2 linked regions of the Homo sapiens genome follow. The protein of the gene in region 2 interacts with the protein of the main gene of each other region in a biochemical or structural test. Each region holds a gene or a part of one and is shown on either strand. Other genes may lie near its edges.

Region 1 (3,500 bases), on a different chromosome or scaffold from region 2:
ATTTCTGAATGCTAATGGGGTACTTAACTATGAGTAATTCTATTTTAAATCTCAAGGTGATGATGATTAATAGTATCTCAGGGCACTAAATAAACATGTATTAAATATGAGCGTATGTTTAAAGGGGGAGTTTTTAATGCAGTCTTTAAGGCACAACTGCTTCTCACTTGAATTCTTTAACTGAGATTAAGGAGTCCTTGGCATTTTAAGCAAAGTCATTTCTTAGGTAAAGTTCCCCCAGAGACCACTTGAACTTTTGCAAGTCTTAAAACAATGGGTGGTTCCATTTGATGGTTCAGAATAGAAAGGAGAGTGTTGATCCTCTACACTGGTATGAAAAAAACTGTATAAGGAGATGGAGGATGCTGGATATCATAGTGCCCGAGAATCACCTGGGGCCCTTGTCAAACACAGATTCTAACTCAGGACACCTGGGAGAGGACCCGAGCTGCATTTCTCACAGCTACCAGATGCTGCACGCTGGCAAGGTTTTGGGATGCACTGAATCCAGTTCAGCATGTTTACTGAGCATATACCACATAGAGAGCCCAGATGATAAAAAAATGAGAAGATGGGTTGTACCTGCCCTTGAGGAGCTAACAAGGTGAGGTGGCAGGGAGAGAGAGAGGGATTGTAAACTGAAAATGAGGTTCTGGGATGCCATTCTCTGGGGTGGTGGCCAGAAAGGGGCCCAGGAAAGGAGAGTTGCTGGTAGGGCTTCCACATTGCTGACCTTGACCTGTAGTCATATTTGAATGGAGAGCCTTGTGACTTGGCAAGAAATAAAATGCAGATTTTGAAGTCAGACAGACCTGGGGTAGCCTCCCAGCTCAGCTATGGCAACTTTTAACCTGAGACTCAGAGTCCTTGTCAGAAAAACAGTGCAAATGATGCTTACCTTGCCAAGTTTGTAGAATTACCAGTAAAGGACGCGTGTTAGGCCTAACAAAAGTGATTGCTTTTATTACTGTTGATAGGAGAGAGGAGGCTGGAAAGCAAGGAGGACGAAGAGGTTACTAAAATATGTTCCATGTAGTTCACCAATTAGAGATTCAATTTGGTTTACCAGCAAACCCAAGGCCGGCCGTGGAGAACCGGGCCAGGGCTGGAGGGCAGGCAGCTGTGGAAGCTAATCAGAGGCAAAATGGAAAATTATTGGGAGCATGCTTATCTCCACCCTCTCCTGCAGTCCCTGGCTTCTGGTTTGCTTTGTTGATAGCCCTTCCTAGGATATTTTCATCTGAAGCTTTTCTTGGTACTTAAGCTGTAGGTTCTGTTGATCAAGACTGCTAGTGGCAATCAAGCGCTCTTTAAAAATGTAGTGGAGAGGACAAACACCTCTCCTCTTTGAGGGGCATTGGTCTATTCTGTGGTGGGTCACTTTCCAGGATCAAAGCCATCAATCTGTCTTTCCACCATAGTACGAGTTACTTGAAACTAGTGCCGAGCGTGTTGGAATTCACCTGGGGTGCCTTTTATGCTTTGCACTCTAAGATATTGCTTCCTCCTGCCATCTAGGAGAGATGGATATTGCAAGGCAATGGTGTCCTTCACCCTGATATTAGGAGGGGTCACCTGGGTGGCCCTGAAAACACTTCAACCAACATCACTCTGATTTTTTAAAATATATTTTGGGATTCCATTTATTATTTGCAAAGGCGATTTCTCTGCTACCATTTGCCTTCCACGCTCCCTGAAAGTAAATCTTGAAAACCAAGTTCTAAGAGAATGGCAATGGCAGTTTGATGTTTAGGGGGAAGGAAAAGCAGAGGAACCCCCTGGAGCCAAGGCAGGCCTGGGTGAGGGTGGAGACGAGAGAGGGAAAGGAAGGCATCGTCAGGCATGGGAGTACCAGGATGGAAATGGGAGCAGTGGTGGGGGCTGAAGCTGAGAGGTTGGACCCTAGGACTCAATTTGTGGACTTTGTTGCTTTGCTGAAGGCCGTGGCAGATAATGTTCCCAGACCACTGAAAATCATCCAGGCTTCCAGAAAACACAGGCCCATCTAAAGACAGACAGGTGACGAGGTGACAGAACCTAGTGGCGTGATTCTTCTAGCCTCTTCTGAGCCAAAAATGACATGCACAATTTTATGAATGATATTTGTGCCCCTTGGTGATAAAATATTAAGAGCTCGAGGTCATCTGAAAATTATTGGTTTTTTGTTTATAAAAGTACATAGTTTTTGGAAAAGATAGAAAAGAAGGAAAAAACCCCACAATTTCAAGATATATTTTCCGTTCAGTGTTTTTTCTATGCATTGAAATATTTTTATATTAGTTTATCTTAAAAAGCACATGGATATAATCTTGTAAAAATTTTCAAATAGCACAGAACCATTTCTAGTAGAAAGAAAAAAAATTCCCTTCATCCTTGTGGCCTACCCATAATCATCGCCCTATCTTTTATTTGCCTAGCAGAAACTGGATTTTGTACAGTAGACTGCCAACCCACACCTGCCTCTGGAGGTTTATCAGATTGGCCACTCAACCCTGGTGAGGGTGGGGCTGCTGCCCTTGCCAGTGACTGGCTCAGGGTGAGCATGCGGACCCTGTTCTAGCCAATAAAATGTGAGGGTGGGCCACTGGGAGGCTTCTGGGAAAGTTTCCCTGCTCTCAAAAGAGACAAGGAAGGAAACAGTCCTTTCCTTCCACTAGATACTGTGATATGTGGCCATAATGCCTGCAAACTGGGCAGCCATCAGCCACCAGAGGGGCTGGGCCAGGTCTCAGCTGACCTGCGGAAGAATGCAAAGGTGAAGAAGGGCAGGGGGCGGGGAGGTCTCCGTGGTGCCCTTGACTTTCTGAATTACACAAAGAAGAGTCTGTTTTTGAACATGTGTGAGATCATGAAACCATTACCAGATGAAGCAAACTGAGCTAGTTTTTCTGTTGTAGCCAAAAGCATCCCATAACTCTCCACCTTTCTCAGGAGGTAATGACTGATAACCATGGGGCATGTTCTGCTAGTCATTTTTGGCGCATTTACATATACACACACATATGTACACTTTTAAAAACTAAGGCCGGGTGCACTGACTCACGCCTGTAATCCCAGCACTTTGGGAGGCCGAGGCGGGCGGATCACGAGGTCAGGAGTTCGAGACAATCCTGGCCAACATGGTGAAACCCTGTCTCTACTAAAAATATAAAAATTAGCTGGGCATGGTGGCACATGTCTGTAATCCTGGCTACTCAGGAGGCTGAGGCAGGAGAATCACTTGAACCAGCGAGTCGGAGGTTGAAGTGAGCCAAGATCCTGCCACTGCACTCCAGCCTGGCAACAGAGCAAGACTTTGTCTCAAAAAAATAAAATTAAACTAAAAAATAAAAACAAAAACTGAACTCATTTTATGTATATTATTTAGCAACTTAATATGGCATGGATTTTTAATGACATACCTTTTTCTTTATTTTTAAAGGCTACAGAGTATTATTCAGAAGTACAAATAGGACGTTATTTAACCCATCCCTATTAATAAATAATCTATTGAGTTGACT
Region 2 (4,008 bases):
TAAGCCATTGACATCATGAATTTGTACTAACTATAATAATATCTAATATTTATTAGTAATACTTACCAGCTGTTCTCATTTAATTTTTATAACAATCGTATTAGGTAAGTATTATTATTCTTGTTTTACAGATGAGGAAACTAAGGCACAGAGAGTGAATAAGTAACTTGTCTGAAGTCACATAGCTACTAGAAGTTAGAGACAGAATTTTATTGTTGGCAGTCCATCTACACAGTCATCATTCTTAATCTCCAAGTTATGATTTTTTCCATTGTGACTTAGAGTCACCTTCCTACTGAAATATAGTACAATGGATATCTTTTGAGAAGGAGGTAGGTGGAGTATTGTCTTTTTTGTAGATGAAAAGGGTGAAATACCACATTAGGCAGCCTGGGGGCAAGGCATTGCTTGGTTGGAGAACCAAGTGCAAGGTGCTAAAAAAAGGAGCTAGAACAGTAGTTTCCAGGCTGAGTGTGGTGGCTCATACCTGTAATCTCAGCACTTTGAGAGGCCAGGGTGAGAGGATTGTTTAAGCCCAGGAGTTGGAGACCAGCCTGAGCAATATAGGGAGACCTTGTCTCCACAAAAATATATATAAAAAAATTAGCTAGATGTGGTGGTGGATGCCTATAGTCCCAACTACTTGGGAGGCTGAGGTGGTGGGAGGATCTCTGAGCTTGCTAGGTCAGGGCTGCAGTGAGCCATGATCATGCCACTGGACTCTAATCTGGTTGACAGAGTGAGCCCCTGTCTCTAGGAAAAAAAAAAAAAAAGGAGTAGTTTCCTAAAATCTTTTCTGTAACATTCTATAATTCTTCATTTTGTTTTGTTTTGTTTTTTTGAGACTGAGTGTCCTTCTGTCACCCAGGCTGGGGTGCAGTGGCACGATCTCAGCTCACTGCAAGCTCCGCCTCCCAGGTTCACGCCATTCTCCTGCCTCATCCTCGCGAGTAGCTGGGACTACAGGCATCCACCACCATGCCCTGCTAATTTTTTGTGTTTTTAGTGGAGATGGGGTTTCACTGTGTTAGCCAGGATGGCCTCGATCTCCTGACCTTGTGATCCGCCCACCTCAGCCTCCCAAAGTGCTGGGATTATAGGCTTGAGCTAGCGCGCCCAGCCTAACATTCTATATTTCTTTCTCCTAGTTCTATGTTTCAATTCTTTAAATACTTTTAAGGGTTTTTTTGAGACAAGGTCCTGTTGTGTCAGCCAGGCTGGAGTGCAGTAGCGTGACCATAGCTTCCTGCAACACCTCCAATTCCTAGGCTCAAGCGATTCTCACTCCTCAGTTTCCTGAATAGTTGGGACCATAGGTATGCACCATCATGCCCAGCTAATTTTTTAATTTTGTAGAGACAGGATCTCGCTATGTTGCCCAGGCTGGTCCTTTTTTTTTTAAATTTTATTATTATTTTTTGAGACGGAGTCTTGCTTTGTCACCCAGGCTGGAGTGCAGTGGCGTGATCTCGGCTCACTGCAACCTCTGCCTCCCGGGTTTAAGCGATTCTCCTGCCTCAGCCTCCTGTAGCTGGGACTACAGGCACGTGCCACCGCGCCTGGCTAATTTTTGTGTTTTTAGTAGAGACGGGGTTTCACCATGTTGGCCAGGATGGTCTCGATCTCCTGACCTCGTGATCTGCCCACCTCGGCCTCCCAAAGTGCTGGGATTACAGGCGTGAGCCACCGCGCCCGGCCTGCCCAGGCTGGTCTTGAACTACTGTCCTCGAGTGATCCTCCTGCTGTTGGCCTCCCAGATTGCTGAGATTACAGGCATGAATCATGCACTGCAGCTTTTAGGATTGTTATTAGAATCCTCTACAAGTTCTTGATACTCCATAATTGAGCCTCTCCTAGAAACTTGGTTTCAGAGACACTGTTGCTAGGTCTTTATCACTGATTGTTCCTTCTTTGTCCTTTTTGCTTATCTTTCTGCTTGTTTCTTTCTCTTGTTCAGTATGCTTCTACTTTTCTCTTCTCACCCTTGAGGCTAGGACTCTTCTTTGAGACAGGGTCTTGACTCTTTTTTGAGACAGGGTCTTGCTATGTTGCCCACGTTGGTCTTGGATTCCTGAGCTCAAATGATCCTCCCACCTCTGCTTCCTGAGTAGCTGGGATTACAAGTGTACACCACAGTGCCCGGCTTGGGGCTAGAACTAAATAGTAAACCAAGCAGTTTCCTTCATTTCTTCCCATTTGCCCACCTACCTGCCTTTCTAGCTGCTTGCCTTCCTACTTCAATTTGACATTCACTTGGTACCTACCATAGTCCTCTTCCCTTTGTATTAGTCCATTCTCACACTGCTATAAATAACTACCTGAGACTGGGTAATTTATGAAGAAAAGAGGTTTAATTGACTCATAGTTCCGCAGGCTGTATGGGAGGCAGGGCTGGGGAGGCCTCAGGAAACTTGGAATCATGGCGGAAGGCGAAGGGGAAGCAAGCATGTCTTCACATGGCTGGCAGGATAGAGGGAGAGAAGGGGAAGGTGCTACACACTTTCAAACAACCAGATCTCTTGAGAACTCTATCATGAGAGAGCATTAGGGGAATGGTGCTAAACCTTTGGAAACCACCCCTATGATCCAATAACCTCCCACCAGACTGCACCTTCAACACTGGGGATTACAATTTGACATGATATTTGGGTGGAGACACACAGAGCCAAACCATATCACCCTTTATTTATCTTTTATGTATAAAAGACTCCAAAAATTTCATTCCTGGCTTCTCACATAAACTACTTTCCTATATTTTTATCTATTTAAAAGATATCTCTCTCTTTTTCTTTTAAAGTTGAGACAGGGTTTTACTATGTTGCCCAGGCTGGTCTTGAAATCCTGGGCTCAAGCATTCCTCCCACTTCAGCAACCTGAGTAGCTGGACTACAGGTGTGTGCCATTGTGCCTGGCTGCATCTCTGTTTGAATAGTTTTTTTTTTTTTTAATTTATAGAAATGAGGTCTCACTGTATTGCCCAGACTGGTCTTGAACTGCTGAGCTCAAGTAGTCCCCCCATCTTGGTCTCCCTAGTAGCTGGGATTATAGGTGTATGACACGATGCCCAGCTCTATTTGAGTAATCTGTTTTTTTTTGTTGTTGTTGTTTTTTTTAAAGACAGAGTCTTTCTGTGTTGCCCAGGCTGGAGTGCAGTGGTGCGATCTTGGCTCACCGCAGCCTCCGCCTCCTAGGTTCAAATGATTTTTGTGCCTCAGCCTCTCGAGTAGCTGGGACTACAGTGTGCCACCACGCCTGGCTAATTTTTTGTATCTTTAGTAGAGATGGGGTTTCACCATGTTGGCCAGGCTGGTCTTGAACTCCCGTCCTCAAGTGATCCACCTGCCTTGGCCTCCCACAGTGCTGGGATTACAAGTGTGAGCCATTGCGCCCAGCCTCTATTTGAATAATCTTTAACATCCTATATATGTATGTACTCACCAGTATTTCCTTTAAATCTGCTGTTCTTCCTACCTTTCTGTATCTTTCATCACTATCACAATTCAGTTTTTCATTTCCCCAGGCTAAGGAACTATAAGTGTTTGGATTTTATTTTTTATGTGTTTATCTGGGTTATTAACTCTTCTCAGGTCTTTTGCCAAATATACGTGTGTGTGTGTGTATATGTATGTGTGTATACATACATATATAAAAGTTATTTAAATCAAAACTATACATCCATATATTAATATTTAAAGACTTAGATAGTTTTATAAAATGTTTGTTACAAAAAAATTATAAGGGAGTCCTCTGCTCCCTTTCTCTCATTTCCTTCTCTCCAGTGGCATCATTTTTATTTCTTTTAACAGAATTCTTTGTTTCTGTTTAAATAAAGTGTCCCAGTGAAAGACATTAGTTTCCAGATCAAAGGGGCTGTGCACACATCAAGGCCCATTATGCTGAAATTTCAGCATCAGATAGAGAATATCCTATAAGCTTCAGAGAGAATAAGATTATTCACATTCAAAAGATTCAGGTATCAGATTGGTCTTTTTTCTCAGTAGTCATGCT

Evidence for each region. The genes of interacting proteins can lie anywhere in the genome.
Region 1: the proteins of ARNT (region 2) and NPAS2 form a complex in vitro, tested with the Homo sapiens proteins (one study listed by BioGRID).

The regions. Positions count from the first base shown.
Region 1 is NC_000002.12:100,823,139-100,826,638, forward strand, and holds part of NPAS2 (neuronal PAS domain-containing protein 2), read left to right. Parts: intron 1-3,500. UniProt on the Homo sapiens protein: Transcriptional activator which forms a core component of the circadian clock.
Region 2 is NC_000001.11:150,866,310-150,870,317, reverse strand, and holds part of ARNT (aryl hydrocarbon receptor nuclear translocator), read left to right. Parts: intron 1-4,008. UniProt on the Homo sapiens protein: Required for activity of the AHR. Upon ligand binding, AHR translocates into the nucleus, where it heterodimerizes with ARNT and induces transcription by binding to xenobiotic response elements (XRE).